Regions from separate parts of the Homo sapiens genome. Here regions 1, 2, 3, 4 and 6 are each linked to region 5. The links come from fine-mapping of genetic effects on gene expression. A gene starts in region 5. Each other region holds a variant in brackets. All regions are shown on one strand. Distances are between the middles of the regions. Region 1 holds the start of CCL17 (C-C motif chemokine ligand 17). Region 2 overlaps CX3CL1 (C-X3-C motif chemokine ligand 1). Region 3 overlaps CCDC102A (coiled-coil domain containing 102A). Region 4 overlaps CIAPIN1 (cytokine induced apoptosis inhibitor 1). Region 5 holds the start of POLR2C (RNA polymerase II subunit C). Region 6 has its middle 4.6 kb from the start of DOK4.

Region 1 (5,083 bases), 57 kb after region 5:
CCAACTTATCCCTCCAGGACTTAGCACCTTAGTGGGTGCTCAATAAAATATGTTTATTAGGCCAGTTTGGTGGCTCACACCTGTAATTCCAATACTTTCGGAGGCAGAGGCAGGTGGATCACTTGAGCCCAGGAGTTCAAGACAAGCCTGGGCAACATGGTGAAACCCTGTCTCTACAAAAAATGCAAAAAAATGACCAGGCGCAGTGGCTCACATCTGTAATCCCAGCACTTTGGGAGGCTGAGGCAGGCGGATCACAAGGTCAGGAGATCGAGACCATCCTGGCCAACATGGTGAAACCCTGTCTCTACTAAAAATACAAAAAAAAAAAATTAGCTGGGTGTGGTGGCGTGTGCCTGTAATCCCAGCTGCTCGGGAGGCTGAGGCAGGAGAATCGCTTGAACCCGGGAGGTGGAGATTGCAGTGAGCCGAGATCACACCACTGCACTCCCTCCTGGGCAATATAGTGAGACTCCATCTCGAAAAAAAAAAATAGCCAGGTGTTACAGTGTGCACCTGTCCCAGCTACTCTGGAGGCCGAGTAGGGAGGATCACCTACATCAGGAAAGTTGAGGCTGCAGTGAGCCATGATTGTACCACTGCACTCCAGCCTGGGCGACAGAGTGAGACCCTGTCTCAAAAAATATATATATGTTTACTGAATGTATAAATAGGTGAGTGGTTGTATGGATGGGTGAATGAATGAATGGGTGAATGGATATGGATGGGTAAATGAGTGAATGGATGGATGGAGGATGGATGATGGATGGACGTGTGGGTGAGTGATGAATGGATGAGTGGCTGGAAGGTGGATGAAAGAATGGACGGATGGATGGATGGTAGATAAATGGATGGGTGGATGTGTGTATGGATGATGGATAGATGGATTGGTGGATGGATGGTGAAAGGATAAATAGATAGATGGATGGGTAGATGAATGGATGGATAGATGGATGGGTAGATGAATGGATAAATGGATGGGTAGATGGATGGATGGTAGATGGATGTGTGGATGGATGGCAAAAGAATAAATAGATGGATGGATGGGTAGATGGATGGATGGAGGGATGGATGGAAGAATGGATGGATAGATGGATGGATGGTAGATGGATGTGTGGACGGATGGTGAGAGAATAAATAGATAGATGGATGGGTAGATGAATGGATGAACGGATGGGTAGATGGATGTGTAGATGGATGGTAAAAGAATAAATGGATGGATGGGTAGATGAATGAATGAATGGATGGACAGACGGATGGATGAATGGATGGATACATGAATGGATGAATGAATGGGTGGATGGATGGATGGATGGATGATGGATGGATGGAAGGATGGATGAATGGGTTGATGGATGATGGATGGATGCATGAAACTGGATGGGTGAGCAGATGGATGGACTGATGGATGGGTGGGTGTATGTGTAGATGTATGGCTAGATAGATGGATGTGTGGTTGGATGGATGAATAGAAGTATGGGTGCATGGCTTGATAGATGATGAATGGATATATACATGCATGAATGCATGGATAGATGGATGGTCACTTAGAGATTCTGAACTACAACATGGGCCCAACTCACATTCTATCCCAGGGCCTCCTTCATCCAAATAGTTTTTAAACCAGTGTGTACCATCATTTCATGAGACACACCCGAATCCTTCTGTCATGGATAAAGCAGAGGAATCTAACCAAGGACACCCTGACTCCTCCCCCATCTAGTTTACAACTTCCTTGTGGTTGTGGCCATTTTTTGCCAAACCTATATTGCTTCAACTGTGGCTTGGATCTCAACCTTTATTCATCCCAGAGGGGCCTCCTTCCCTCAGTTGCACTGCCATCTTCTAGCTCTTTACTGTCTCCAATCCCATGACCCCCTTTCCCTCTGCTGACAACATGATCCTGTCTCTCCACTTCCATAAAGACCTCCCCTTGACTTCAACACCCTCGCATGCTGCCCTCCCATTTCTCCTTTCATTCATGACCAAACTGCTCCGATGTGTGGTCTGTACTTCCCTCTACCATTTCCTCTCTGCCCACTTGTGATTTAATTAATCCTCAGCAATGTGGCTTCCAGCTCTGATGCTCTAGGAAAGGTGCTCTCACTGAGCCTCTTGATCCCCTCCAGCCACTCCCTGAACCTCCCACTGCCTTACATTGGGCAGTGATTACCAGCAGAGGCTCTGGAATCATTACCTACAGCCCTGAGTCCCAGTCACTCTTCTACTTGTTCCTGGTTGTGTGACTAACAGCGATTTTATGAACTTCAGTTTTCTCATCTGTGAAATGGGTGTGATGATAAGACACTCCCTCATGGTATGACCTGGAAAACTAACTGAGATGAAGTCTATAAAGTTCCTAGTCTCCAGCTGGCTCAGGGAATCGCCTTGTCATCCCTGGGAACCTACCATCCTTCTTGATGCTCCTCCCACTGGGATTTGGGACATGGTTCTTCCCTGAGCTCCCTGTGAGCTCCTCTTCTCAGAAATGTCCCTGAGCTCTCACTATAGGCTGGGGTGGGTGTTGGGGCAGGGGAATCTCAGCAGTTAAGTCTATTAGTTTACTTTGTCCTCACAACAGCTTCAGGGAGTAAGAACTATTAGTTTCTACAGATGAGAAAATTAGGAACTGACCAGAGTAGTTTAAGCAACTGGTCCACTGTAATCCCAGCACTTTGGGAGGCTGAGGTGGGAAGATCGCTTGAGCCCAGGAGTCTGAGACCAGCCT[G/A]GGCAACATAGTGAGACTCTGTCTCTACAAAAAAAATAAAATGAAAATTAGCCAATCATGGTGGTGCACGACTGAGCCATGACTGTGGCACTGCGCTCCAGCCTGGGCAAAAGAGCAAGATTCCATTTCAACAACAACAAAATAAATCTGCTTCATGGGCACAGAGCTAGCTGGTGGCAGGAGCAAGCCTGGGCTTCTGTCCTAGACTTTGTTTTTGCCTCAAGCAACCTTCCCTTCCTCCCTGACATCATCTACCCCAGATCTTTTACCTCTGGATAAAGACTTCTTTTTTTTTTTTGAGACGGAGTCTTGCTCTTTCGCCCAGGCTGGACTGCAGCAGCGCTATCTCGGCTTACTGCAAGCTCCACCTCCCGGGTTCACGCCATTCTCCTGCCTCAGCCTCCCAAGTAGCTGGGACTACAGGCGCCCGCCACCATGCCCGGCTAATTTTTTTTTTTTTTTGTATTTTTAGTAGAGACGGGGTTTCACCGTGTTAGCCAGGATGGTCTCGATCTCCTGATCTCGTGATCCACCTGCCTCGGCCTCCCAAAGTGCTGGGATTACAGGCGTGAGCCACCGCACCTGGCCTGATAAATACTTCTTAAATCTCTGTCTCCAGCCCTGACCAGTAACTAATCAGACACACCCACCTGGACACTCCTCCTTCCGGCCCATCTTTCTGTGGCACCCCTCAGCTCTCTCTGCCTTGCAGCCTGGCCAGCTCTGTGCAGTTCTGTCCCCCACACTAACCTGTGAGCTGCTGGGAAGCAGAAGTCTGTCCTGCTATGGTTCACTCAGCCCCAGGTACCAGAAGGGCAAAACCGAGTTCCCTCTCACACCAGCCTCCTTTTTTTCTGTTCAAGCCAGCATTGTTTCCCATCTCCCCATCTGCCCCCAAGTCTGAAACTTTGCCCTTGACTCATTCCTCGCCTCCATCCCCCACATTACATCAGGCAGAGACTCTGCCCAGCGCTGTCTTCAGTGGGAGCTTGGCTTCCTTGCTTCCTTCTCATCTCCACTGGCTCAGCCCTCATCCTTCACACCCAGAGAGTCTCAAAAACTTCTGGGCCTATTTCTTCCTCTCTGGTCTCTCCTGACACCTCCCTCATCAGCTGCATGCCCACATGTGGTGGATCTTTCACAAGGGCTGCCCTGACCATGTAATGCCCCCTTCCTCCAAAACCGTCAATGGCTCCCTGCTTCCTTCCCCATCCAGTCAAAACTTTTCAGGCCAATCTTGAAGCTGTACCTTCCATCTAGCCCCTCCTTCCTATTCAGTCTCATCTCCCTGCTCCCCAACATTGAGCTTTCTTGAGGGCCAGTGCGTCCCCTCACTTTGTGACTTGGTTTGCTGCTTCCAAACTCCTGTCCCCTTCTTGTATGGATTATCTTCCCTTGATCCAAAGTCCATCCACCGCTCATCTAACACATGCCCTGAAAGATCCAGCGAGGGGGTCACCTCACAGTGGAGGGGTTAGGAGCAAAGACTCTAGGTCAGGTCACCTGGTTTTGAATTCAGCTCTCCCATCAGCAGGCGGTGACACTGTGAGCTCAAAGTCACTTCTCTCTGAGCCTCAGTTTCTACAGCTGCAAAATGAAAATAATAACAATAATTACATTAGAAGGCTTTGGTTTGCATCAACTGCCTTACTGCTTATATCTGGCAAATAGTACACGTTTCTGACTTTAAATATCATCTATATGCCAACCACTCCCAAGTTTCTCTCGCAAACTCCAGCCTCCTTCTACGTCCAGCTGCCTACTCGCCATACCAAATAGGCAGCTCCAACCCCCCAAGTCTGAAGCTGAATTTCTGATTCCCACCCACCCCTACACCTGCTCTCTCCTCCTTCTCTGCCAGCCCCTTCCTTCCGGTTACTAGGGCCAGAAACCTGGGCGCTATCCCTGACGCCTCTTCCTCTCGCCCCCAACTTCCCATCTGTTGGGTGAGCTCATGTCTCTGCTTTCCAAATACACCCAGAAACCAGCATCAATCCCTGGCTTCCTACAACTGCCTTCTGGGTGCTCTCCCTGTCTCCATCCTTGCCCCCTACAGTGTATTCTCAGCACAGCAGCAGAGGGACCATGAATCTCCCGTGTTCAGAACGTCCCCGTGGCTCTCCACCTCACGCAGAGGACAAGTCCAAGACCCTCCAGCAGCCACGAGGCCCCGCGAGTTCTGTGCCCTGCTCTCTGCCCACCTGTATCTCCTGGTTCCCTGGTTCACTCTGCCCCAGCCACCCTGGCCTCCTCCCTATGCCTCAAACCAACCAGACAGACATGCTCCTTCCTGAGGAGGTTTGCACGGACTGTTCTTTCAGCCTGGAATGTTGTCCCCAGATACCTGCAGGACTC
Region 2 (5,079 bases), 87 kb after region 5:
CGAGACAGATAGATCATCTGAGGTCAGGAGTTTGAGACCAGCCTGATCAATATGGTGAAACCTTGTCTCTACTACAAATACACAAATTAGCCTGGCATGATGGTGTGCACCTTTAGTCCCAGCTACTCGGGAAGCTGAGACAGGAGAATTGCTTGAATCCGGGAGGCAGAGGTTGCAGTGAGCTGAGATCATACCACTGCACTAAAGCCTGGGTGACAGAACAAGACTCCGTCTCAAAAAAAAAAGAAAAAAAAAAAAGAGATCTCTTGCCTCAGCCTCCCAAGTAGCTGGGACTACAGGTGCCTGCTACCATGCCTGGCTAATTTTTTTAAGAGACAGGGTCTTGCTATGTTGCCCAGGCTGGTCTTGAACCCCGACCGCAAGTGATTCTCCCACTTCAACCTCCGGAATAGCTGGGATTACAGATGTAAGCCACTATGCCCAGCAATAAACTTTTTAAAAAATATATAAGTACAACTGCTTTCTAAGGAAGGTGGGGTCTGCTGAATAGATGATCCTTTGTTCTGCTGCTGAGAGCCAGAATGAGCCCGAGAGCAGTTGCTGAAAGGTACTGAGTCATCCTGCCTAGGAGGGAAGAGGCATTTGAAATTCCTGGAGCAAGAAGAGTAAGGAGGAGGGTTGGAGATGGACGGTATGAATAAGGTGGGGGCAGAGTGGGGCGGAAGGGGCAGGCAGTAGCTGAGTGTCACGTGGAACCAGAGAGAAACCCCGGGACAGGACAAATAAACCCAACTATTTGATATAAACATTTGAAGTTGTTTACATTGAATTTCCACCTTTTCTCTTCCTCTATAATCTCCAGCAAATTTTCTTCTGCTTAGCTTGAGCTCAAGGAGGATGAGTATAAAAAACAAGGAAGAGCTTGAGTTTCAGATCTGAGTCAAGGTTATATGCAGCAAAAGCAAGACCCCAGAGGGTTTTGCAAACATCTGGAGACCAGGGCAGTCAAGAGAGCAAGCTGATCTTATCTAGCCCTTCAGAGCCTGGGAAACCCCCAGGGCATCCCTGGGCTCCACCAGAACACGAACTGCTCATGCATAAATATTTACATATATGTGGCCATGCAAACATACACCACTTTCCCAAATACAGGCACATGCACGCTTGCACACACAGAGAGACTTTGTAGAGTCTGCTGCTTCCTCTCTCCATCGCTCCCCCTTAGCTTTGGCCCACCCTGCTTTGTGGGAAGGTGGTTTAGGGCCGGCAGGTCTGGGTTGAGTCATCAAGGAGAAGCACTAGTAGCTTCAGGGGGTTGGGGGCTGTGTGCAGGAGGGGCTCCCCAGGTCACAGGGCTGTCCTTTCTCTCTGAGTAACCAGGATATAAAAGTCACTGTGTGGGCTGGCCACCCTCCTTCTGCAATGGAACCTCAGACTGACTCACCTGCAGCCTCCCCAGGCCCTATTGAGTGGAGCCAGGTGGCAGTCCCCTAAAATGGCCTGCAGGTGTCTTCTTTGGGAAGCCCCAGAAAATACGGTGCCCCTGAGTGACCAGAGACAGGAGGAGGCAAGGGAGGCTGCCCAATGGATAGGAAAGAAGGTCCATTCTGTGCTCCCCAAATCCAAGATGGGAAAAGCCATTGCCCACCTCCAGGGCTTTAAAGAGCCACAGAGTCATCCTGTCTCCAAAGTCCCCACCCTCTGCCACGGTCCCTGAATGGTCCTGGCCCGGCTCAGTTCTTGGTTCTGCCAGGAAGATTGTTTAACTGACCTGGGGAGCCTGTCCCTTCTCAGAGCTGAAATTTTCCTTTCTGTAAATGGAGACAATGCCTCATCCAGCCAGTCATATATTATCTGTCATAGGAGTGTCAGGAAGGCAGGGACCTTGTCTGTCTTGGTATCATAGTTTCCCAGCATCAAGCACAAGGTGGATACTCAATCAATATTCATTGAATGAAATTAGTCTCAGTTTACTTATCTCTCTTTAATGCATCTATCTACCTATCCATCCACCCGTCCACCCACTCTTATCAATCTTCTACCCATTCCTCGCCCACCTGCCACCTCCTGCCCAACCCCTATTCATCTCCATTCATCCATCTACCCACTCCCTCTCCCCTACCTACCACCTGTCAATCTTCCGCCCCCTTTTATCTCACCTACTCATCCATCCCTCATCATCCCCTCCCCATCCCTTCTTCCATCCATCCATCTGTCCATCCATCCACCCATCCATCCATCCATCCATTCATCCATCTATCCACCCATCCATCCATCCATCCATCCATCCATCCATCCATCCATCCATCCATCCA[C/TCCAC]TTCCTGATTCAGCCAACACTGGCTGGAATTACTTTTGAGTATATACAAAAATCTCAGGCCCTCTTATCCTTAACCTTGAGCTCTTTCTCCCATAGGCACTGGTGCTGAGTTTGAAGAGAGTGCTTCCATCCCAATAAATGCCATCAGATCACTCTGTTTATTCAGTCAACCAACAAATGCTGGTTCCTCTTGCCAGGCCCTGTGCTGGGTGCTGTGAGGTACAGTGAGATGAACAAGGAATGCCTCTGGCCTCAGAAGGCTCCCAGCCTGATGGACAGGTAAATTAGGCACACAAAGTATCAGAGGTTTTATTTATTTTTTTTAATTGAACACCTACTGTGTATTGGACCCTGTGTCCAGCATGTACACATCTGCTCTCTTTAATTCCCAACATTCCTGCAAAGGGAGTATTATCCCAACTTTACAGATGCAGAAGCTGGAAATAAGAGAGGCTAAATGTGCCCAGTGCCACACAGCTGCATGGTGGCAGAGCTAGTTTTCTACTCAGCCCCTAAACACCCCACTGTTCTAGGCTACCCTAGATGCCAGGTAGAAACACAGTGTTCCAGAACATACCACAAACATATTGGGGTTTACATGAGGGAGAGACCACTTCCAACTTCAAATGGTCAGGGGAGGCTTCTTGGAGGAATTCTCCTTTAGGCTGGACCTCAAGGACTTCTAAGAGTCTTCCAGGGTCTTAGAAGGAGACTCAGGAAATGTCCTGGGTTGCTGGATGAGGTGATAAAGGGAGGGCTTGAGCCATTGCCCAGCTGTGTGTCCTGAGCAAGTCACTCGGACTCCCTGAGCCTCAGTTTCCTTACTTGTAAAATGGATGTGACAATACCTGCTTCACAGTGTGGTTGTGAGAATAAGAATTTTTTAACTTCTGGAGCATTTTTCCCTTAGGGCAAGGTTTCTCAACAGTGACACTACTGACATTTTGGACCAGACAATTCTTTGTTTTGGGGGCTGTCCCGGGTACTATAGGAGGTTTGGCAGCATCTCTGGCCTCTACACACTAGAGGCGAGTAGCTCAACTGAACCAAAAACATTGGGATATTTGTAACAAGTAAAAAATTTCTCTAGAAATTGCCAAATGGCCCATAGGGGAGCAAAATTACTCACTGAGGACCATTGCTCTAGAGATATCCACATGGCTCCCGCCCTCACCCCGCTCCAAACTGTGCAAAGCCACCTACTCAGTGGGCTTCCCTAACCCCCTATTTAAAATGTCAACACCTCTCTTCTCCCCTCTCTATTTTTCTTTTTCTTTTCTTTTCTTTCTTTTTTTTTTTTTTAAATGGACTCTCACTCTGTCACCCAGGCTGGAGTGCAGTGACACGATCTCGGCTCACTCCAACCTCTGCCTCCCAGGTTCAAGCGATTCTCTTGCCTCAGCCTCCCAAGTAGCTGGGACTACAGGCATGCACCACCACACCCAGCTAATTTTATATTTTTAGTAGAGACAGGGTTTCATGATGTTGGCCAGGCTGGTCTTGAACTCCTGACGTCAGGTGATCTGCCCGCCTTGGCCTCCCAATGTGCTGGGATTACAGGCATGAGCCCCTGCGCCCAGCCACCCCTCTCTATTTTTTTATCACAGTGCCTTTTCTCCTTCCAACAGACCACATTGTTTACTGATTTACTTTGTGTGTTATGTGTCCTCTGCAGTTGAATTACAGCACCTCGAGGGCTGAGGTCCTTGGCTGTTTTATTTATTGATGCCGCCCCAGTACCTAGAACCAGGTTTGTCACACAGTAGGTGTCCAATAACTATTTGTTGAATGAATGGACAAAATGCCTAAGGAAGCGCTTTGTGGCATAATACCTTAACCAACAGAAAAATGGAGGAATTTTTATTTAAATTAGACAGGGGCCTGGATCTGACACTCTTGAATTTATCCTCCCATGCCCTCCCCATCCACCCCCACTGCTAATGAGGCGGGTAGGCTATAGGAGCTTAAAACAGATTCGTTTTTTTTTCTCTTTCTTGCCAGGACTTGAGTGGGAGTGAATGCGTCAGCTCTTGGAGTGGGGGGGCAATGCTCTGCACTGACTCGTAGCTGCAGGTTTGTTATATAAAGTACAGAAGCCTCCTGCCTGACACAGCCCCACAAACCCACATTTGGGGACTGACGCAGCTGCCCCACACTAGTCAGGGCAGCAGCTACGAACCCCCCAGCCTCCTCTCGGGGTCTCTCTGGCTTCCAAACCACCCCCTTGTCCTACAGGGGCTCCCGAGGGCCTCTCAGAGCCATACATGTCAGCGTGGGAGAGGACTTCCAAGGTGAGCCTGGTCAAATGCCTAGTTTTACAGGAGGAGAAAGTGAGGCTGAGAAAGGTTCCAATAATGCCCAGGATCTTCCAGTAAAGCCAATGACCAAGATGAGGGCAGAAGCCTGGTTCTAAAGCCTCAGGCTGCTAGTCTGAGCACCCAGGGTCCCCCAGTGTCCCCTTTCCATCCTAGCCTAGGACCCTTCCCTCTCTCAGCTTAGTAAAAGTAATCCTCCTCCTCCGCCCTCTTCAAAACACCTCCATAGGCATTGGAACCTCGTCACCCTCCCCCAATCCACCGGAGAGGTAATAGCTATATTTAAAGATGCAGCAACTGGGACCAGAGGAGGCAAGACCCTGCTCACGGTCACATAACAGGACTGTGGCAAAGCAGCCGCCATCTGACTCCCTGCTTTCCAGATCTCACTGTCCGCAGACACCTCAGGCTTCAGGGCCCCAGCCCAGACAGCAGGAAGCCAGCAGGAATTTGCCTCCACCACTCTCACGTGCCCACCCACCCACACA
Region 3 (5,088 bases), 61 kb before region 5:
GGGAGAAGCTGGAACAGGGGCTGTGGTCCTTGTGGGTTTGTGTCAGAGACAGGCCTTGGAGATGGGCGGGGCGGAGAAGAAGGGCAGGATGGCAAGAAGGAAAGGGGCTCGGCCCTGGGTTCCTAATTTCTCAACTGCTTCCTGTCTGGGAGCTGGCTCTCCTCACAGGCACTGCTTCCCTGTGTCACCAGTCTCCCCATGCCTTACTATTTGCCCCTGAAAAAACAGGATCTTAGAGCTAGAATTCCTTTGGAAGGAATCTAGGCTTAAGCCATTATAGGAATTCCTGCTTCAACATTTGTTCCCATCGGTGCCCCGCCGTAGGTTTGCATACTTCCAGTGACAGGGAGCTCACCACCTCTCCTGGGGAATCTTCTAGGATACAGGGAACCATGGTGGCTGACACTCTGCAGCTCCAGGAGGTGAAAGGGGAGGCCCAGAGCAGGGTGTGTCTTCCTTCTCCAGAGATGGAGAGGCAGGCAGCAGAAGAGGAAACTGAGGCCCAGAGACACTGTGTGACTTGCCCAAGGTTACCCATCAAGCTGATCTCAGACCCAGGGCCTGGCTTGGCGGCCACTGGTCCAGCCTCCACCTTGGTCCCCGCAGGAACTGGAGCTGGTGGAGAGCCTGCTGAAGAGCATGCCAGAGGAGTCTGAGGACTGCTGGGAGGCGCGCAGCCTGGGGGCTGGGGGCCCGCGGGGCAGCTCAGGCCGCCAGGAGCGCAGCCGGCTACCCTGGGAGGACACAGCTGCCACGGAGGAGGAGGCCTCCAAGTTGACCGCCCTGCGGCTACGGCTGGATGAGTCCCAGAAGGTGCTGCTCAAGGAGCGAGAGTGAGTCGTGGGAGGCGGGAGGGGGCAGGGCCAGGGCCAGGCCGTGCTACAACGCCCTCAGAATCACAGAACATTAGACTCACGAAGATGACAGGTAGTGTTTAGACTGTATCTTGGAACTGTAGAGCAGTGGTGTTCCACCCAAGAACTCAGTGCAAGTTTTTATTTATTCATTCAAATAATACGTTACCAGGCACCTGTTCTGGGCCAGGCACTGTGCTCTGCCCTGAGGATACAGCCGTAAATAAGACAGAAGCCCCTGCCTTCCTGAAACGTACTTTCTAGTTGGGGGAGAGGGCTGTGGGCAGGGTAAAAGCAGGGAATGGAGACAGGGAAGTTGGAAGGTTGCAGCTGGGACCTTGGTTTTGGACGTGTGAGTTTGAGATGGCAGGGAGGCAGCTGGGGATGTGAATGAGTCTGGAGTTCATGAGACAGGCCTGGGCTGGAGGTAAAAATGCAAGAGTCACCAGTGAAGAGATGATATTGAAAGCCATGAGCTGGGCCAGGCGCAGTGGCTCACGCCTGTAATCCCAGCACTTTGGGAGGCCGAGGTGGGCAGATCACTTGAGGTCAGGAGTTGGAGACCTGCCTGACCAACATGGTGAATTGAAACCCCATCTCTACCAAAAATGCAAAAATTAGCTAGGCGTGGTGGCAGACACCTGCAATCCCAGCTACTCAGGAGGCTGAGGCAGGAAAATTGCTTGAAGCCGGGAGGTGGAGGTTGCAGTGAGCCGGAATTGTGCCACTGCACTCCATCCTGGGCGACAGAGCAAGACTCTGTCTCAATAAATAAATAAATAAATAAATAAATAAATAAATAAAACGATGAGCGTGGACAAGGGCCAAGGAATGAGTGTGGATAGGGAACTGGTCAGAGGATCCAGCCCTGAAGTGCCAAGTTTAGAGGTCAGTTAGAGGAAAGGGAAACAGCAGAGGAGACAAGAGAAGGGAGCCGGGCTGGGAAGGGGAACCACAAGAAACCGTTTCCCGGAGGACAGAGTGATCAGTAAGAACAGGGCTGAGCCCTGGACCATTGGATTTAGAATGTGGAGGTCACCAGTGACCTTGATCAGAGCAGTTTAGAGGGCACGAGCTTGATGATAATGAATATTCTGCAGTTTTTCTGTCCAGAAATTAAATACGACAATAGCATAACCTATCTACACACTCCTTTTTAAAAAATCAATATAATGGCCAGGTGCAGTGACTCATGTCTGTAATCATAGCAC[T/C]TTGGGATTCCGAGGCAAGAGGATTGCTTGTGGCCAACCTGGGCCATACAGCAAGACCCTGTCTCTCTCTCTATATATATATATATTTTTTTTAGACAGAGCCTCACTCTGTCAGCCAGGCTGGAGTACAGTAGCACAGTCTCGACTCACTGTAACCTCTGCCTCCCATGTTCAAGTGTTTCTCCTGCCTCAGCCTCCTGAGTAGCTGGGATTACAGGCATGTGCCACCATGCCTCTGGCGCATGTTCTTTGTAGTTCTCCTGGAACTGCATTCCCTATCCAAGTGCAAGTGCCCAGCTCACATTGTGGGGAGGTGGTCGGGGTTCCAGAGCACTGAGCATCCCCGGACAAGTACCTCTCTCCTGCTGCACCTCAGGCTCATCTGAAAATGGCTCCAGGAGGTGGCGGCCCCAGCACTGGCCACTCCACTCCTTGGCCCACCTTGTTCTTCTCGAAGGGCTGTCAAAGACCACCCTGCTCCTGTCTGTTTTGTAGACTATGTTCCCTGCAAGGCTTGGTCTGAACACATGTTTCTGCAGATAGAAACACTGGAAAACACTGTCCAGTGACCCGAAGAGAGGGTTCTCTCTTGCCATCGTCACTGTGTGGGATCCCTACATCCTCCCATAACCCCCACCCTGCCTTGATCTTGAATAAGGCACTGTAGGTTACAAGCATGATGCCTGGCCCTGGCAGAGTAGGTGCTCACCAATGGCTGAGCTCAGCATCACCTTCCAGCACGCTGCCCTTCATGACCCCACACCACACTGGCCTCTCTCTCTGAGAGTGGAACACTCCACGCCTCCAACATGGGGTTCCCAGAGGGGACAACCCAGAGGGTGGCTAAAAAATTAGCCACCAGACCCGGCTAATTTTTGTATTTTTCATAGAGACGGAGTTTTACCATGTTGGCCAGGCTGGTCTCGAACTCCTGACCTCAGGTAATCCACCAACCTCAGCTTCCCATAGTGCTGGGATTACAGGCATGAGCCATTGTGCCTGGCCTACAAAAAAAAAAAAATTAGCTGGGAACGGGGCTGTGCCACTGTAGTCCCAGCTACTTGGAAGGCTGAGGCGGGAGGATCGCTTGAGCCCAGGAGGTCGAGGCTGAGGGAGCTGTGATTGTATGAATGCACCAGTACCCTCCAGCCTAGGTGACAGAGAGAGACGCTGTCTCAAAAAAAAAAAAAAATCACTATAATGCCTTTGTGAAGATGTAGGCAGAGGTCAGGGTGATGCTTTTGCGGACATTGTTGCATCTTTGGCCAAGGAATACCAAAGATGGCCAGCAAACTGCCAGAAGCTGGGAGAGAGGCATGGAACGGATTCTTTCTCGCAGCCCTCAGAGAACCAGTCCTGCCAACAGCTTGATCTTGGACTTCTAGCCTCTAGAAATATGAGAGAATAAATTTAGACTGTTTAAGCCAAACAAGCAAAAAAATCAACCTAGTGCACTAACTGAAATATAAAGTAGAAGTGAAAGTAACTTTTTTTTTTTTTGGAGACAGAGTCTCGCTCTGTTGCCCAGGCTGGGGTACAGCGGCTCTATCTCAGCTCACTACAATCTCTTGTCTCCCTGGTTCAAGCAATTCTCATGTGTCAGCCTCCCGAGTAGCTAGGACTACAGGCACACACCACCACGCCCAGCTAATTCTTCGTATTTTAGTAGAGACAGGTTTTCACCATGTTGCCCAGGCTGCTCTCGAACTCCTGAGCTCAGGGAGCCCACCTGCCTTGGCCTCCCAAAGCGCTAGGATTACAGGTGTAAGCCACTGCGCCCAGCCTGAAAGTAACTTAAAATACACGTGTTGTGATATGGGAGTGCTTGGGCATAGCTCCTCTAGAAGAAATGGTGAAGTGGTCAGAGTGGGTGTCTTTAAATGGGATGATAGTGACGATAGTTATAACAGCAAAGACATAGCATGTGCTCCGAGTCAGGTGTTGTGTTGAAGGCTTACATGTATCTGCACATTTAAGTCACCTCGCAGGACAGCTACAAAGGCGGCTCATGCAGGTGTGCAGACTTAGCAACTCAAAGACACAAGTGGTGTCACTGCGATGCGCTTTCTTGAGAGATGAACAGCCTTTGGTAAAGTTCTGAACAAAGCAAAGTGCAGCCGGGCACCGTGGCTCATGCCTATAATCCCAGTACTTTGGGAGCTCGAGGTGGCAGGATCGCTTGAGTCCAGGAGTTCCAGGTTGCAGTGAGCTGTGAACAGACAGGAACAGGGTAGTCTTTAAGAGATGAGCCTGGGGTACAGCAGGAGGGAGGTACTTGCCCAGAGATGCCCAGTGCTCTGGAGCCCTGACCACCTCCCCACAATATGAGCTGGGCACTTGCACTTGGGTAGGGAGTGCAGTTCCAGGGAGTGAGCTGTGATCTGCACTCCAGCCTGAGCAACAGAGCCAGATCCTCTCTCTAAAAACAAAGAAAAGTGCAGTCTTCCTTCAGTTTATACAGTGATTCCATTCCTAGAAAATTCAGTGTATGTTAGTATAAAAATTACTTTCTGTTTCAATGTAAATCAGAATGAGGCTGTAGGCTCAGATCATCTCTACCCCGAGCAATGTCCAGTGGGCTGTGCATGCATTCAGTAGGATGCAGGATGCATCCTGATGGGCAGGACGCCCAGGGCATTGCAGGGAGTCAGGCACCCTGGCCCCCGTCCACTAAATGACCCCTAATCATTGTGATAGCCAAAAATGTTGCCATGGGTTTTCAACATGCCTCCTACAGGGTGACGTTGTCCCCTCTGGGAACCCCATGTTGGAGGCATGGAGTGTTCCACTTTCAGAGAGAGAGGCCAGTGTGGTGTGGGGTCATGAAGGGCAGCGTGCTGGAAGGTGATGCTGAGCTCAGCCATTGGTGAGCACCTACTCTGCCAGGGCCAGGCATCATGCTTGTTACCTACAGTGCCTTATTCAAGATCAAGGCAGGGTGGGGGTTATGGGAGGATGTAGGGATCCCACACAGTGTCGATGGCAAGAGAGAACCCTCTCTTCGGGTCACTGGACAGTGTTTT
Region 4 (5,088 bases), 28 kb after region 5:
TGTCCTCATCTTACAATGGAGTTACATCCTGATAAATACTATTAAGATGAAAATGCATGTAATTCATCTAACCTACTAAACACAATTGCTTAGGTTAGCCTAGCCTACCTTAAACACGCTTAGGACACTTGCGTTAGCCTACAGTTGGGCAGAATCATCTAACACAAAGCCTGTTTATAATAAAGTGCTTAGTATCTCATGTAATTTACTGAAAACTGAAGTATACAGTTTCTACTGAATGAGTATTACTTTCATACTATCATAAAAGTTGAAAAATTATAGGTAGAACCATCATTAAGTCAAGGACCATCTGTACATTAAACAGAATAGGTTATTATTTTTTTTTTGTTTTTTCTTTGAGATCAAGTCTCACTCTGTTGTGCAGGCAAGAGTGCAGTGGTGCAATCTCGGCTCACTGCAACCTCCGCCTCCCAGGTTCAAGCGATTCTCGTGCCTTAGCTTCCCAAGTAGGTGGGATTACAGGCGTGTGCCACCACGCCTGGCTATTTTTTTTGTGTGTATTTTTAGTAGAGACGGGATTTTGCTATGTTGGCCCCAGATTGGTCTTGAACTCCTGGCCCCAAGTGATCTGTCCACCTCAGCCTCCCAAAGTGCTGGGATTACAGACATGAGCCACCACGCCCACCTGGTTATTATTGTTTGAATGCCTGCGAACCCATATAGGATTGAGCCTTTATTATTTTTCCTACTTTGAACTATAAAGCTATTAATTGGGATTTTCCTTTTGGCAGATAACAATAGCAAAGTGAAGACAGCATCTAAGCTGTGTTCAGCCCTGACTCTTTCTGGTCTTGTGGAAGTGAAAGAGGTACGTTTGTAGACAACTTTCTTTGCTGCCCTGCAGGTGAGGTAATCAGTATTGCTTAGAACTAGGAAACAAGAAATGCTGTGCATGTAAGATACATGATGCTTCAAAGGACAAAACTTGGGAGAATCGGCCGGGTGTGGTGGCTCACGTCTGTAATCCCAGCACTTTGGGAGGCCGAGGTGGGTGGATCACGAGCTCAGGAGATCGAGACCATCCTGGCTAACACAGTGAAACCCCGTCTCTACTAAAAATACAAAAAAATTAGTCGGGCCTGGTGGCAGACGCCTGTAGTCCCAGCCACTCAGGAGGCTGAGGCAGGAGAATGGCGTCAACCTGAGAGGCGGAGCTTGCAGTGAGCCGAGATCACGCCACTGCCCTCCAGCCTGGGCGACAGAGCGAGACTCTGTCTCAAAAAAAACAAAACAAAACAAAAAAAAACTTTTGAGAATAACCAACTTCAAAGAGACTCAGCTTGGCCCATGTGGGCTGGGGCTTGTTCTTGTCTCCTTGGTACTAGTTTAGTGGTGGTGACAGCTGAGGGGCATGAGCAGCAGCTCTGCTGCTTCCAACACCCACCTCTCAGTAGACCCGAATCCTAGGCCTGGGTGAACACTGCCATCTAGTTCAGCCTCACATTTTTGGTGGGAGGCTGGAATAGGTTAGAGGGCAAAGTTCCTTTTCTGACAATTCAGTGGAAATGTTTAAATTAAGCAGAAGTATTTATATTTCTACACTCTTTGATCTTAAAATTTTCTTGGATGTGGGAGAGGTAAATGTTACAGCATGATAGCTGTTGTGCCTGTTATTTCTTACATAATGTAGGGCCTTAAATTCTTTGTTTTTTAATTTTTTTTCTTGTTTTTGGAGACAGTCTCGCTCTGTTGCCCAGGCTGGAGTGCAGTGACACGATCTCTGCTTACTGCATCATCCGCCTCCTGGGTTCAAGCAATTCTCCTGCCTGAGCCTCCCGAGTAGCTGGGATTACAGGCGTGCGCCACCACACCTGGCTAATTTTTTGTATTTTTAGTACAGATGGGGTTTCGCTATGTTGGCCAGGCCGTTCTCTAACTCCTGACCTCAGGTGATCTACCCACCTTGGCCTTCCAAAGTGCTGGTATTACAGGCGTGAGCCAGGCCTTAGATTCTTTATGCCAGGCCTTAGATTCTTTATGCCAACCCTTTCTTATTTTTCCTTTTAGCTTAAGGTTTTCTGTGCTTGATTTTAAAATAAGGAATGTGTATTAGGCCATTCTTCTGTTCCTATAAAGGAATACCTAAGACTGAATAATTTATAAAGACAAGAGGTTTAATTGGCTCACTGTTCTGCAGACTGTACAGGAAGCACGGGCCTGCAACTGCTTGGCTTCTAGGGAGGCCTCAATGAACTTTTACTCGTGGCAGAAGGTGAAGCAGGAGCAGGCACATCACATGGCAAAAGCAGGATCAAGAAAGAGAGGAAGAGTCGGGGTGGGGAAGGTGCCATACTTTACAACCACCACATCTCATGAGAATTCAGATGGTGCTAAACCATTCATGAGAAATCTGCCCCCATGATCCAGTCACCTCTCACCAGGCCCCACCTCCAACATTGGGGATTACAGTTCAACATGAGATTTAGAGGG[G/T]ACACATATCCAAACTATATCAGACTCCTCATAAAAATTCACTTTACACCAAAGCATACAGAATATAAAGTGACATCCCACTTCTTGCTCACACTTCCCTCCCCAGAGGAAGCCACCAATGCCTTTTTGTATGTCCGTTCAGACCTTTTCCTATGTATTTACAAGCATCTACATGCACATACTTTTTTAAAAATGTAAATAAGATCATAAGTATACATTGTTCAATCACCTTTTTTCCCACCCTTAGATATCATAGACACTTACCTACTTCAGTGTATTTCCCTTCATTCATATTAATGATGTAATAGTATTCCATACAATAGATGGACTGTGATTTATGTAACCAGTCTATAATTATTGGACATAGAGGTGGCACCCTGACCCTTTTTTTCTACCTTTACTCTCTGCTACTTTATCCCAAGGAACATAGAAAGGATTTTCCTCCCCCTTTTTCTTTTGGGATATAAATTTCTGCTGTCTTCATTGTGGGCATTCTTTCCTGTTACACAGTAGGACCACATCTGGTTCATTTTCATAATTGTATTACATCCCAAATAACTAGTATATGCCTCATCCCTAATGTTTTTTAAGTACTTTTACATTTTCCAAGGGGTAGGCTCCAAGTAAACATGCAGACAAAGGTTATACTCTAGGGTTCTGATCAGTGAGAAACTGAATGTGAGGCATAAAGTGTTATCTGTTACCATCCACTGTTACATCCTTAATGCACAGAAATGAGTCTTTGACTCCTGTGTAGGTAGACATAGTAAACCATTTTACAGAGGAGGGTGAACTAATCCTTTTGATGTCTTGAATTCTAGCTGCAGCGGGAGCCCCTAACCCCTGAGGAAGTACAGTCTGTTCGAGAACACCTTGGTCATGAAAGTGACAACCTGCTGTTTGTTCAGATCACAGGCAAAAAACCAAACTTTGAAGTGGGTTCTTCTAGGCAGCTTAAGCTTTCCATCACCAAGAAGTCTTCTCCTTCAGGTAAGGCTGGCCTAGGGACATTCTTCTGTTTGAATGGGCTTAGAGGGACATGTTAGAAATTGAGCCAGCAATAAATGAGATGGTGATATTTTTAGAGGATTAGTCCTTTGATTTCTGCCATTTCCACAAAGAAGAATACTTAATGTACTATTATCATGGGCATATTAGGATCCAAAACTGAAATAATACATAGGTATTATCTAGTTCAGCTCCTTCTTCTGCACCAGAAGATACCGAGGCCTCCTAATTTTACAGGACTGAGTCACACAGTTTAATTAATGAGGTCCTTCCAGGTCCCAGAATTAACGTTTCTCCTCAGAAGACCTCACAGTGTAGTGGTAATGGTGTATGAGAGTGCCCTGTTCCTGTTCTCATGTGCTTTTTTCCCCATGCCAGGAAAATCAGCTGTTCTTACTTTGAGGATGCTAAGACACTTATAAAACTATATTTCTTCTGACTAGAAAATTGTGTACAAGCACACGCGTGCACGCACGCGCACGCACACACACACACACACACAGCTCCATCCTCATCCTTCCTATCCCTATTTTTAAATGCCTGAATTGACCCAGCTGTGAGGTATGCAGACATTAACAGATATTTACTGGTACATTCCCACTTGTACGGTTTTGACTGTCTAACCTAAATCTTCAAGAAATCCTTTGGAATCTAACCTTTCGATTCATGGTTCCAGAATGGGTAGGAATAGCTTAGAACAGTTGGCCTTGTGGAAGGTATGAGCATCCAGCTGTGACAATGATCACTAGAGGGTACTCTTACCCCAAGGGCCTGCGAGGATTTGCCCACACTGCATCCGAGCCTCAGCTCTCTGCCTCTTCCTTGCATTCTCCTGACTAGACAGAGAACCAGGAAGTGTGAGGTTTGTCTGCCACTGATGGTGTTACCTTGCCACCAGCAGCTCTAGAGCCTATTTTCTTGTATGTAGCAGGTTTACATGAGGCTAAAGCTCTGCTATTTTTGAAGGTTTTGACACATTTCTCATTTAATCCTCAAAACACCTGCAGTAACATAGGAAGTACAATTTAACTTCATGTTATAGAATGGAAACTAAGGTATCGAGGAGGAAGCAATATGGAATGGAGGTTAAAAGCATCAGACAGGCTTTGCAGCCTGTGGAACCAGCCTAAGTGTCTAAACCTGTTTCCTCAGCGGTAAAAGTAGGATGACAGATAGTTACCTCATAAGGTTGTCAGCAGAATTAAGTTAGATAATGTATATAAGTGCTTAATATGGTGCCTGGTGCAAAGCAAGAGCTTAGCAAATGGTGACTTCTGTAACTATCAGCAAGTGGTTGGCCCAAGGTCAGACCTCTCAGAGGGGTAGAGCTGGACTGTGAACCCACATCTTCTGCCTCCCAGGCCAGTGTGTTCTCTTCTACACAGCAGGAAGCATTTATGTATGTTTGTAATTAATAGTTTCTGACTGTGTTTATGGAGTTTTTTCTTTTATTGCTTGGACTCAGTGAAACCTGCTGTGGACCCTGCTGCTGCCAAGCTGTGGACCCTCTCAGCCAACGATATGGAGGACGACAGCATGGTGAGCTGGCAGCATTGTCACTTGATTGCTTTCTTTCAGGCCCCAGTTTGGGTGTGAACAGCTATAGTGACCTTTCTGGACTTGTAGGTG
Region 5 (5,000 bases):
AGTATTTGCATGAGAAGCACTTAAATCTGCTACCTGTGCCACCACTAAATCCAAGAACATGAACTATTTGAGCACTTCAAAGTCAGGGAAACCCTCACAGAAGCAACACAGACTTATGGGGCCATACCTCATTTTAGGATATAATGACTGGACTGCCCAACTTAGCACTTTTTAAACACTCAATCAACAAATGTTTACTGAATTCTTTTAATGCGCAAAGTATACTAAATATAGAACCCAATCCCTAGCAGCAATGAGCTCGTAGGAGGGTAAAGACTGTATTATCGATCACACATGCTTGACTTAAACACACATTTATTCATTCATAAACATTTGCATGGAACCAACTAAATCCAGGAATCAAATGGCACTGGAGCCCAACTGCCAAACGAGGGACACAGACACTAGGAACAGCGGTCGGAAGAGGACCTCCCCCTGCCAGGCCTCCACCTGCTCTGTCCTGCTATGCTTCCCATTGCTTCCCCAGTCCAAGCCAACTGAGAGAACCCTGACCCAAGCTTTTCTGCCTCTTTAATCCCCCAGCCCTTCCCTCCAGCACACCCTTCCCCTCCTTGCTGTACAGGTTAAGATCCTCTGTGCCTCCTGAAAACTAAGCCTTGCCTGCTCTCTATGCTACAGATGTGACATTCCCTCCCTTTCAACTCCTCTCTCACAAAACTCTGTTCAGACTTCCCTCAAGACACTTGTCATAGTGTGCCTTGTGTCATATTTGTGTATGTTATGTCTATACCTCAAGCTTCAGAAATTCCTTCACGCAGGTCCTGGGATGTCTTTGTATTCCTAGCATGGGTGCTCAATATTATTTGTAGAACTGAATTTGTTGGGAAAGAGGCATTTAGACTCAGAATGGCAGGGCTGCATCATGAAGTACAACTCCCTCACCTGACTCCTGATGAAACTGAGGTCCAGAGGCATGAAGTGCTTAGGCAGGGGGAGGTCCAGCACTCCAAGCTGAATTTAAGAAGTGACTGGGGGGCGGGGGGGTGGGGTGGTGGTGGTAGTGGATAAACTACAATGTTCTCTTGCCTAATCATTTGGCCTGCTTATTTCCTTAAAAGTCTGAATATTTGATGCCACAGCTATGACTTATATTTATTTTGCCTAATCCAAACTCTCTGAGCTGACTCTCAGAAATGCTTGAAGTATTTCATACAAGTATAATCAATGCATTAAGCACCTGGAGCAGAGTGGCTGGAACCAGACCAGAAATTGATCTTCCCTCCTCTAAGAGCCAAGTGCACCACAGCTATGCTTCTCCTGAACTACTGATCAAAATCTACCTTGCTTTAGTGTTGTCTGTGGATTCATCTCTCCCCTACAACCTCACTGTGGACTCCATGAGGGCAAAAACCCTGTTCTCTACAGCTTTGCATTCCCAGAGCTTACCACCATGCCTGCCACTTTCATGCTCCATAAATGCTGTTGAAGGAATAGATTAATAAAAAAGCCATCTACCAGCACTGAGCACTCACTAAACACAAAGCACTTATATGGATTACCTCACTTAATCCTTAACATTACCCTGATAAGGATCATTAGTGGCCGAATGTTACAGATGAGGAAACTGCAGCACACAGAAGTTTAATAACTTGCCCAAGTTTCACAAAAGCAGTAAGTGATGCAGCCATAAGAACGAACGAAATCATGTCCTCTGCAGCAACATGGACGTGGCTGGAAGCCACTATCTTCTTTTTTATTTTCTTTTGTTTGAGAAGGAGTCTCACTCTATTGCCCAGGCCAGAGTGCAGTGGCATGATCTCGGCTCACTGCAACCTCCACCTTCTGGGTTCAATCAATTCTGCCTCAGCCTCCCCAGTAGCTGGGATTACAGGTGGGAGCCACCACACCTGGCTAATTTTTGCATTTTTAGTAGAGGCGGGCTTTCCCCATGTTGGCCAGGCTGGTCTCAAACTCCTGGCCTCAGGTGTTCCTCAGTCTTGGCCTCCCAAAGTGCTGGAATTACAGGCGCGAGCGCGGCCTGGAAGCCATTATCCTAAGAGAATTAACACAGGAACAGAAAACCAAACACCGCATGGGAGCTAAAACTGGGTACGCACGGACATAAAGATGACAATAAACACACTGGTGACTACTAGAGCTGGAAGGGAGGCAGTGGGGCTAGGGGTGAAAAACTACCTATTGCGTACTATGCTCACTACCTGGGTGAAAGGATCATTTATACCCCAAATCTCAGCATCACGCACTATACCCAGGCAACAAACCTGCACCAATGTACCCCTTGACTCCAAAATAAAAGTTGAAAACATTTTAAAAACTTTTGTAACAATAGTAGTGAAAACAGTATTTGAACCCAAGTCTGCACACTGCTAAACCCATGCTTCTCAGCAATGCATACCCAGGACAAGGGTGGACCTAAGTGGCCCGTGGGCGCCAGGGAGGCGGCCACTGAGCCAAGGGCACAGGGTATGGTCAAGTCTCCAGCAATGCACTTTTCTCAGCACTACCACCCTCAGCCCGAACCAAGGACTGGAAGGAGCCCCAAAGAGTGTGTGGGTGGAGAGCGGGGCAGGAACCCGTGGGCGCGGGAACGAGGAAGGGGAGTCGCTTACCTATTATGGGAACCTCAGCGATGAAGACCCTCCGAATCGAATTGGCCACCCTGAAAGATCAAAAGCCAAGGGGCGTGAAGGCGCTGCAGCCTCGACAGGCTGGGCCCGCGCCGCAGGCTCCCAAAGCTAAAGCCCTGGTGCAGGGGGGCAGCTCTGGAAGGACATCGCCCCCACCCCACCCCACTACACCCCCGCCCCCTGCCCCGGGGCCCCGGCTTGGGCCTCCCGGCGCCCCAGAGCCGCCAGCCTCTTCCCTCGGTAGCCTTACGCCAGGTCGGTGTTCTCGATGATGAACTTGACATTCTCGTCAGTGAGCTCCGTGATCCGCACGGTAGGCTGGTTGGCGTACGGCATCTCGCCCAGGGGCCACCAGCCTCCGCGTCTGCTCCGCGGTGACTGCGCGGCGCCACCGCCAACACCGGAAGTCAGTCAGCGAGGCCTCCGCGGCTTCCGCAAAGACGACTCACAGCGCCGCCTGCTGCTCGGAGGCCAGAACTGCCGAGCGTCTTCTGCGGCCTCCTGCTTTAAAATGTACCAGATTCAGCTATCTCGGAGGGTAGTTTGGCAAAACACGCATACGTCCTTCACTTAACAGTAACACTTCTAAGAATTCATACTGCAGAAACACTTGCAGTTGTAAACAAAGATACGAGTGCAGGGACGTTCGTGGTAGTACTGTTTGTACTGTCCATTGATAAGAGACCTGGTGGAGTATACACACATGGAATACTATGAAGCACTTAAAAAGAACTTGTACATCTATAGAAAAACAAAAGTATATTTTAATATGAATGTATATTTTAGCAAAGTATACCTGAATTATAAGTAAATACCCTTTCCCTTGCAGTCTCAAGTATGGACCATGCACTTCTGAAAACTTCAGGAAAAGATACAATGTTCTTTAACCTAATGCTTCCTCTACAGTCTGTGTAGCTGTGGTGGGTGAGTGGGAACTCTTTGTCTCTGCATCCCCAGTGCCTGGCAGTGGGCACCATGTGGGGTGCATGCTCAACAAAGAACTACTGAAGTCCCCTAAACAGACTGGAGAGAGGTTTAAATGGGCCTCAAAAAAAGTGGCTGCTGCTCCAACAGAGAAAAGCTCTAAAATAGAACGTGGCAGGAAATACATTTAAGAGTTGGGAGAAGAGTAACCAGATAAAGAGGAGTTTGCCTTTGCAAAGAGTGACACCTCTTCCTGAAACAGAGGGTGGGCACTGATGGAACCCTGCTCCATAACCTGTGTCATCTTGGTAAATTAAGAATTATGGTTGTCTGCTGAGTGTAAGATGGATGCTATGAAGGAAAAAGGAGAATGCAATGAAAACTGGAACAGCTACTGCGAAAACTTCACAGGATGTCAAGAGATACAAGGAATTGAGAGGTGCAAAAAAGATCCAGTGGAAGACCCACAAGAGATCTGAAATTCAATTAGTTGCTGACTTTCCCCCATTAATATTCAGCTGACAGGCAGAAGAGAGCAAAGCAGAAAACAGAGCTAACCAGACGTGCAAAGGGAACCCAGCCAGTGTAGAGGCTGAGAAAATTACTGGGGCTAAAGAATGTACCACTAAAATCGTCAGACAAGAGCAGCCAAGGGAGCTGATGGTCTGTGGGAAGGCTTCTGTTACCCGTATTTTACTGATGGGAAGACTTGAGCCCAGAGACGCAGAGGTACTATAATTACCACTATGTATTAGGCAGTGGCAGCGCCAGAACACAGGTCTCCTGGCTGCCATAACTTAACCTGTCTCCCTCTGGGGTCCTGGATACCTATCATGATTGATAAGGAAACTAACTACACAATGGGAAACTACTTCAAACATATTTATTATTTTTACAGACTCAAAATACACTAATAATCCTGCAATGCATGCTGGTGTCATGTGACACCAGGCCTGGAATCACACCTCTGTCCAGCAGGCACTTGTCTCAGGTGAGGCAGTTTTCTGAGGGGGCTCCCAGGAACAGCATCTCAGGACACCTGAGAGGGAGGGGGCTGCAAGGAACACCTCTGTGTGCACACGCCTGTGCTGTGCTGGAGATGAGCTGTCACCTTGAGGTGGCGTCAGACCTTGACTCTGGCTTGGGAGCCCCAAGGTTAAGGGAAGGTTAAGACATGATCAAGGTGCCCATGAGATTGTGACAGGGACATGCTGGGTTTCTGTGGCTTGACTGCTTGGATGAACATCTCATTTTTCAATCACACAGTTGCAGTGCAGAAAGGCATCAGGAGGCTTGGTCTGGTATTAGGAACTGAAGAAGCAGCCCAATCCCTGACCAGAACGGTAGCATCAAATGCCTTGTGGTTTCCAGGTGGCTGTGGTAGTGACTCAGGAGTCCTTTAGTGTGTTCTCGTGAACACCAGGTTATGTGGATGGCACCTTATACTTTTCAAAGCTCTTTCAATCT
Region 6 (5,088 bases), 28 kb before region 5:
TACCCAGAGGCCGAGGTGGGAGAATCCCTTGAACCCGGAGGCAGAGTTTGCAATGAGCCGAGATCACGCCACTGCACTCCAGCCTGGGCAACAGAGCGAGACTCCATCTAAAAAGAAAAGAAAAGAGGCCGGGCGCGGTGGCTCACGCCTGTAATCCCAGCACTTTGGGAGGCCGAGGCGGGTGGATCATGAGGTCAGGAGATCGAGACCATCTTGTCTAACACGGTGAAACCCCGTCTCTACTGAAAATACAAAAAATAAAATAAAATAAAATAAAAAATTAGCCGGGCGTGATGGCGGGTGCCTGTAGTCCCAGCTACTCAGGAGGCTGAGGCGAGAGATTGGCGTGAACCTGGGAGGCGGAGCTTGCAGTGAGCCGAGATCGCGCCACTGCACTCCAGCCTGAGAAACGGAGCGAGACTCTGTCTCAAAAAAAATAAATTAGCAAAAAATAAAAATAAAAAGAAGAAAGAAAAGAAAAGAAAGAAATAATGCTTTTCCACCTATCTTGGTATCCCTTAACACAAAATTAACCATCACAGTAGACTCTAGAGCAAAGAAAACTACCAGAGACAGAGAGGGACGGTATATAATAGTAAAAGTGTCAATCTATCAAGAAGATATAGAAATCCTTAATACAGGGCCGGGCATGGTGGCTCACGCCTGTAATCCCAGCACTTTGGCAGGGCGAGGCAGGCAGATCACAAGATCAGGATTTCGAGACTGGCCTGGCCAATATGGTGAAACCCCATCTCTACAAAAAATACAAAAATTAGCCAGGTGTGGTGGCACACCCCTGTAGTCCCCGCTACTCAGGAGGTTGAGGCAGAAGAATCACTTCAACCCGGGAAGCGGAGATTGCAGTGAGCCGAGATCGCACCACTGCACTCCAACCTAGGCGACAGAGCAAGATTCCATATCAAAAAAAAAAAAAAAAAAAAAAAGAAGAAGAAAAGAAAAGAAATCCTTAATACACATGCACCAAGCAAGAGAACTACAAAATATGCAAAACAAAAACTGATAGAAGTGAAAGGAGAAATGGACAAATCCACACTTATAGTTGGAGATAGCAACACCTCTTTCCAGCTATTGATAGTACAACTAGATATAAAATCAGAAAAGATGCAGAACTTAACCACAGCATCAGCCAACAGGATCTAACTGATATTTTTAGAACACTCTACCTCAGAACAGCAGAACATACCGTGTTTTCTTTTTTTTCTTTTTTGAGACAGAGTCTTGCTCTGTCGCCCATGCTGGAGTGCAGTGGCACAATCTTGGCTCACTGCAACCTCCGCCTCCTGGGTCCAAGCAAGCGCATCTGGCTAATTTTTGTATTTTTAGTAGAGATGGGGTTTCACCGTACTGTCCAGGCTGGTCTCAAACTCCTGGCCTCAAGTGATCCACCCGCCTCAGCCTCCCAAAGTGCTGGGATTACAGGCGTGAGCCACCACACCGGGCCCACACCTTGTTTTCAAGTGCTCATGAACATATACCAAGATAGACCATGTCCTGGCCATAAAACAAACTTCAACAAGTTTAAAAGAATTGAAATCTTACAGAGTGTTTTTTTCTGGCTACAATGGAATCAAACTAGAAATCAGTAACACAAAGAGAACAGGAAATTATCCAAATACTTAGAAATTAAACAGTACGCTTCTGAATGATCCATGGATAAAGAGAACGTTTCAAGGGAATTTTTTAAAAGATACATTGAACTGAATGACAGCGAAAGTAAAACATATCAAAATTTGTGGAATACACCTAAAGCAGCACTAATATGGACATTTATTTCACCTTAGAAAAGAGGAAAAGTCTTATATCTGTCATCTGAACTCTATATCATCTAAACTTGATAGACTGACACCTTAAAGACCTAGAAAAAAACAGCAAAATAAATTCAAAACCAGCAGAAGTAAGGGAATAATAAAGATAAGAGCAGAAATCAATGAAATCTAAAATGAGAGAGAGAGAAAGAGAGAGAGAGGGAGAGAGAGAGAATTAGTGGAACAAAGATTTGGTTTTTTTGAACAGATCAATAAAATTGACAAACCTCCAGCAAGACTGACAGAGTAAAAATGTCAGAGAAGACACAAATACCTACATCAGAAGTGAAATAAGGAATATTGCTATAAAACCTGAAGACATCAATAATAATAATAATAAGGTAATGTTTATTATTATTGTAAAGTTGACAACTTAGATGAAATAACTACTTCCCCCAAAGACACAAACTGTTACAATTCATTTAACATGAAATAGTTCATTTGAGTAGTCTTGTAACAATTAAGGAAATTAGATTTTAAATTTTAAAACTCCCAAAAAAGAAATATCTTTGGGAAGCCAAGGCAGCAGGTTCACTCGAGCCTAGGAGTTTGAGATCAGCCTGGGCAACATCACGAGAGCCCCCATCTCATTTTATTTAAAAAAATTATTATTGTTATAATTTTAAAACTCCAGACTCAGATGTTTTTGTTGAAGAATTATACCAAACATTTAAAAAAATAATACTAATTCTACAAAATTGTTTTCAGAAAATAGGAGT[G/T]AATTCTGTTCAATTCATTCTATAAAATCAGTACCCTGATACTAAAACCAGATAAAGGTAGCACAAAAAGAAAGACAAGAAAACTGGCCAGGTGCAGCGCAGTGGCTCACACCTGTAATCCCAGCATTTTGGGAGGCCGAGGTGGGTGGATCACCTGAGGTCAGGAGTTCAAGACCAGCCTGGCTAACATGGTGAAACCCTGTCTCTACTAAAAATACAAAAATTAGCCGGGTGTGGTGGCAGGCACCTGTAATCCCAGCTACTTAGGAGGCTGAGGCAGGAGAATCGCTCGAACCTGGGAGGCGGAGGTTGCAGTGAGCAGAGATGGTGCCATTGCACTCCAGCCTGGGCAAGAGAGCAAGACTCTGTCTCAAGGAAAAAAACTAACAAACAAACAAACAAAAAAACAGGCTAAAGATGAAAAATCATATATTAGTATAGAAAAGCATTTGACTAAATTAAACGTTCATTAATGGTAAAAAGCTCTCAAAAAATAAGAGAGGAGGACTTCCACAATTTGATAAAGAGCATCTACAAAAAACCTACAGCTAACGTTGGTCCTTAATGATGAAAAATTGAATGCTCTCCCCGAAGATCAGCAACAGGGTAAGGATGTCAGCTCATACTACAACATAGTGCTGAACATTTTAGCCAATGTGATAAACCACTAACAAATAGGTAGAAAAAGAGGAAAAAAACCTTTTCTACATGCAGATGACATGATTATCTATGTAGAAAATCTCAAAGAATCTACCAAAAAAAAAAAGACAAAAACCTCCTAGAACTAATATGTTCAGCAAGGTTGCAAAATATAATTATACAAAAATTATTTCCATATACCAGCAATGAACTCATTCATGGGCAGCAAAATTAAAAATGCAATACCATTTAAAATCACCAAAAATAAGTAAATAAAATAATTAGGTGGAAAGCTAACAAAATGTGTATAGGACCTGTATGCTGAAAACTCCATAATGCTGATGAAAGACATTAGAAATAAATAAATAAATGGAGAGACATACTGTGTTCTTGAATTGGAAGACTCAGCATAGTAAAAATGTCAATGCTCCCCAATTGATATACAGGTTTAATGTAATTTCTATCAGAATCCCAGCAAGATATTCTGTAGATATAGATAACATTATTCTAAAATTTACATAGAAAGATAGAGAATATTACCAGGACAGCTGAAACAATTTTGAAAAAGAGTAAGTTGGGGCTGGGCGCATTGGCTCATGCCTGTAATCCCAACACTTGGGAGGCCAAGCTGGTAGGATCACTTAAGGCCAGGAGATTGAGACCAACCTGGGCAACATAGTAAGAACTCCATCTCTACACAATAATTTAAAAAATTACTTGGGCATGGTGGTCTCAGCTACTCAGGAGGTTGAGGGTGGAAGATTCCTTGAGCCCAGGCACTCAAGGCTGCAGTGAGCTATGATCATGCCACTGCACACCAGCTTGGGGGACAGAGTGAAACCTTGTGGCAAACAAACAAACCAATAACTTGGGAGGAATTAATAACAATCTACCTCAGAGGTCCCCAATCCCTGGGCCACAGACCGGTACTGGTTGTGGTCTGTTAGGAACCTGGCTGCACAGCAGGAGGTGAGCAGCTATGAATGAAGCTTCATCTGTATTTACAGCCGCTCCTCATTGTTCACATTACCACCTGAGCTCCGCCTCCTGTCAGACCAGCAGCAGCATTAGATTCTCATAGGAACAAAACCCTATTGTGAACTGTGCATGCGAGGGATCTAGGTCATAGGCTCTTTATGAGAATCTAATGCCTGATGATCTGTCACTGTCTCCCATCACCCCCAGATGGGACTGTCTAATTGCAGGAAAACAAGCTCAGGGCTCCCGCTGATTCTACATTATGGTGAGTTGTGTAATTATTTAATTATATATTACAATGTAATCATAATAGAAATAAAGTGCACAATAAAGGTATTGTGCTTGAATCATGCTGAAAACACTCCCACAACATCCATGGAAAAATTATCTTCTATGAAACTGTCTGTGGTGCCAAAAAGTTGGGGACCACTGGTCTACCTGATTTTAAGACTTTTTTTTTTGAGACAGAGTTCCACTCTTTTTGCCCAGGCTGGAGTGCAATGGCGCGATCTTGGCTCACTGCAACCTCTGCCTCCCAGGTTCAAGCGATTCTCCTGCCTCAGCCTCCCGAGCACACGCCACCACACCCAGCTAATTTTGTATTTTTAGTAGAGATGGGGTTTCACCATGTTGGCCAGGCTGGTCTTGAACTCCTGACCTCCAGTAATCCATCCGCCTTGGCCTCCCAAAGTACTGGCATTATAGGCATGAGCCACTGCTCCTGGCCTTAAGACTTACTATATAGGCATAGTAATCAAGACTGTTATTAACAGAGAGATAGACATGCAGATCAGTGAAATAGAACAGAGAATCCAGAAATATGTCCAACTGATTTTTTACGAAGTTGCAAAAGCAATTCAATGAGAGTCTTTTCACCAAATAGAGCTAGAACAATCAGACATCCACAGGCAAAAAAAAAAAAAAAT

The links.
Region 1: its variant is fine-mapped to the expression of POLR2C in whole blood (INTERVAL, PIP 0.98).
Region 2: its variant is fine-mapped to the expression of POLR2C in transverse colon (CEDAR, PIP 0.95).
Region 3: its variant is fine-mapped to the expression of POLR2C in whole blood (TOPMed, PIP above 0.99).
Region 4: its variant is fine-mapped to the expression of POLR2C in whole blood (INTERVAL, PIP 0.97).
Region 6: its variant is fine-mapped to the expression of POLR2C in whole blood (INTERVAL, PIP above 0.99).

The regions. Positions count from the first base shown.
Region 1 is chr16:57,403,985-57,409,067 of GRCh38, reverse strand. CCL17 (C-C motif chemokine ligand 17) reads right to left here and starts at 4,301. Exons shown (of 4, transcript NM_002987.3): 1 at 4,232-4,301. The variant G/A (reference allele first, on the strand shown) is at 2,729.
Region 2 is chr16:57,373,638-57,378,716 of GRCh38, reverse strand. All of the region lies in intron 1 of CX3CL1 (C-X3-C motif chemokine ligand 1), which reads right to left. Among named protein-coding and RNA genes, the nearest start is that of CX3CL1, 3.7 kb to the right of the region's middle. RefSeq lists an enhancer at 1-126. The variant C/TCCAC (reference allele first, on the strand shown) is at 2,277.
Region 3 is chr16:57,521,646-57,526,733 of GRCh38, reverse strand. CCDC102A (coiled-coil domain containing 102A) reads left to right here. Exons shown (of 9, transcript NM_033212.4): 3 at 607-833. Among named protein-coding and RNA genes, the nearest start is that of CCDC102A, 12 kb to the left of the region's middle. The variant T/C (reference allele first, on the strand shown) is at 2,066.
Region 4 is chr16:57,432,397-57,437,484 of GRCh38, reverse strand. It overlaps CIAPIN1 (cytokine induced apoptosis inhibitor 1), which reads left to right. Exons shown (of 9, transcript NM_020313.4): 4 at 753-829; 5 at 3,273-3,441; 6 at 4,925-4,998. Among named protein-coding and RNA genes, the nearest start is that of CIAPIN1, 12 kb to the left of the region's middle. The variant G/T (reference allele first, on the strand shown) is at 2,452.
Region 5 is chr16:57,460,670-57,465,669 of GRCh38, reverse strand. It overlaps POLR2C (RNA polymerase II subunit C), which reads right to left and starts at 2,991. Exons shown (of 9, transcript NM_032940.3): 1 at 2,860-2,991; 2 at 2,592-2,641. The coding sequence starts at 2,945. COQ9 (coenzyme Q9) reads right to left here. Exons shown (of 9, transcript NM_020312.4): 9 at 4,400-5,000. RefSeq lists an enhancer at 2,839-3,133.
Region 6 is chr16:57,488,579-57,493,666 of GRCh38, reverse strand. No RefSeq gene overlaps it. Among named protein-coding and RNA genes, the nearest start is that of DOK4, 4.6 kb to the right of the region's middle. The variant G/T (reference allele first, on the strand shown) is at 2,546.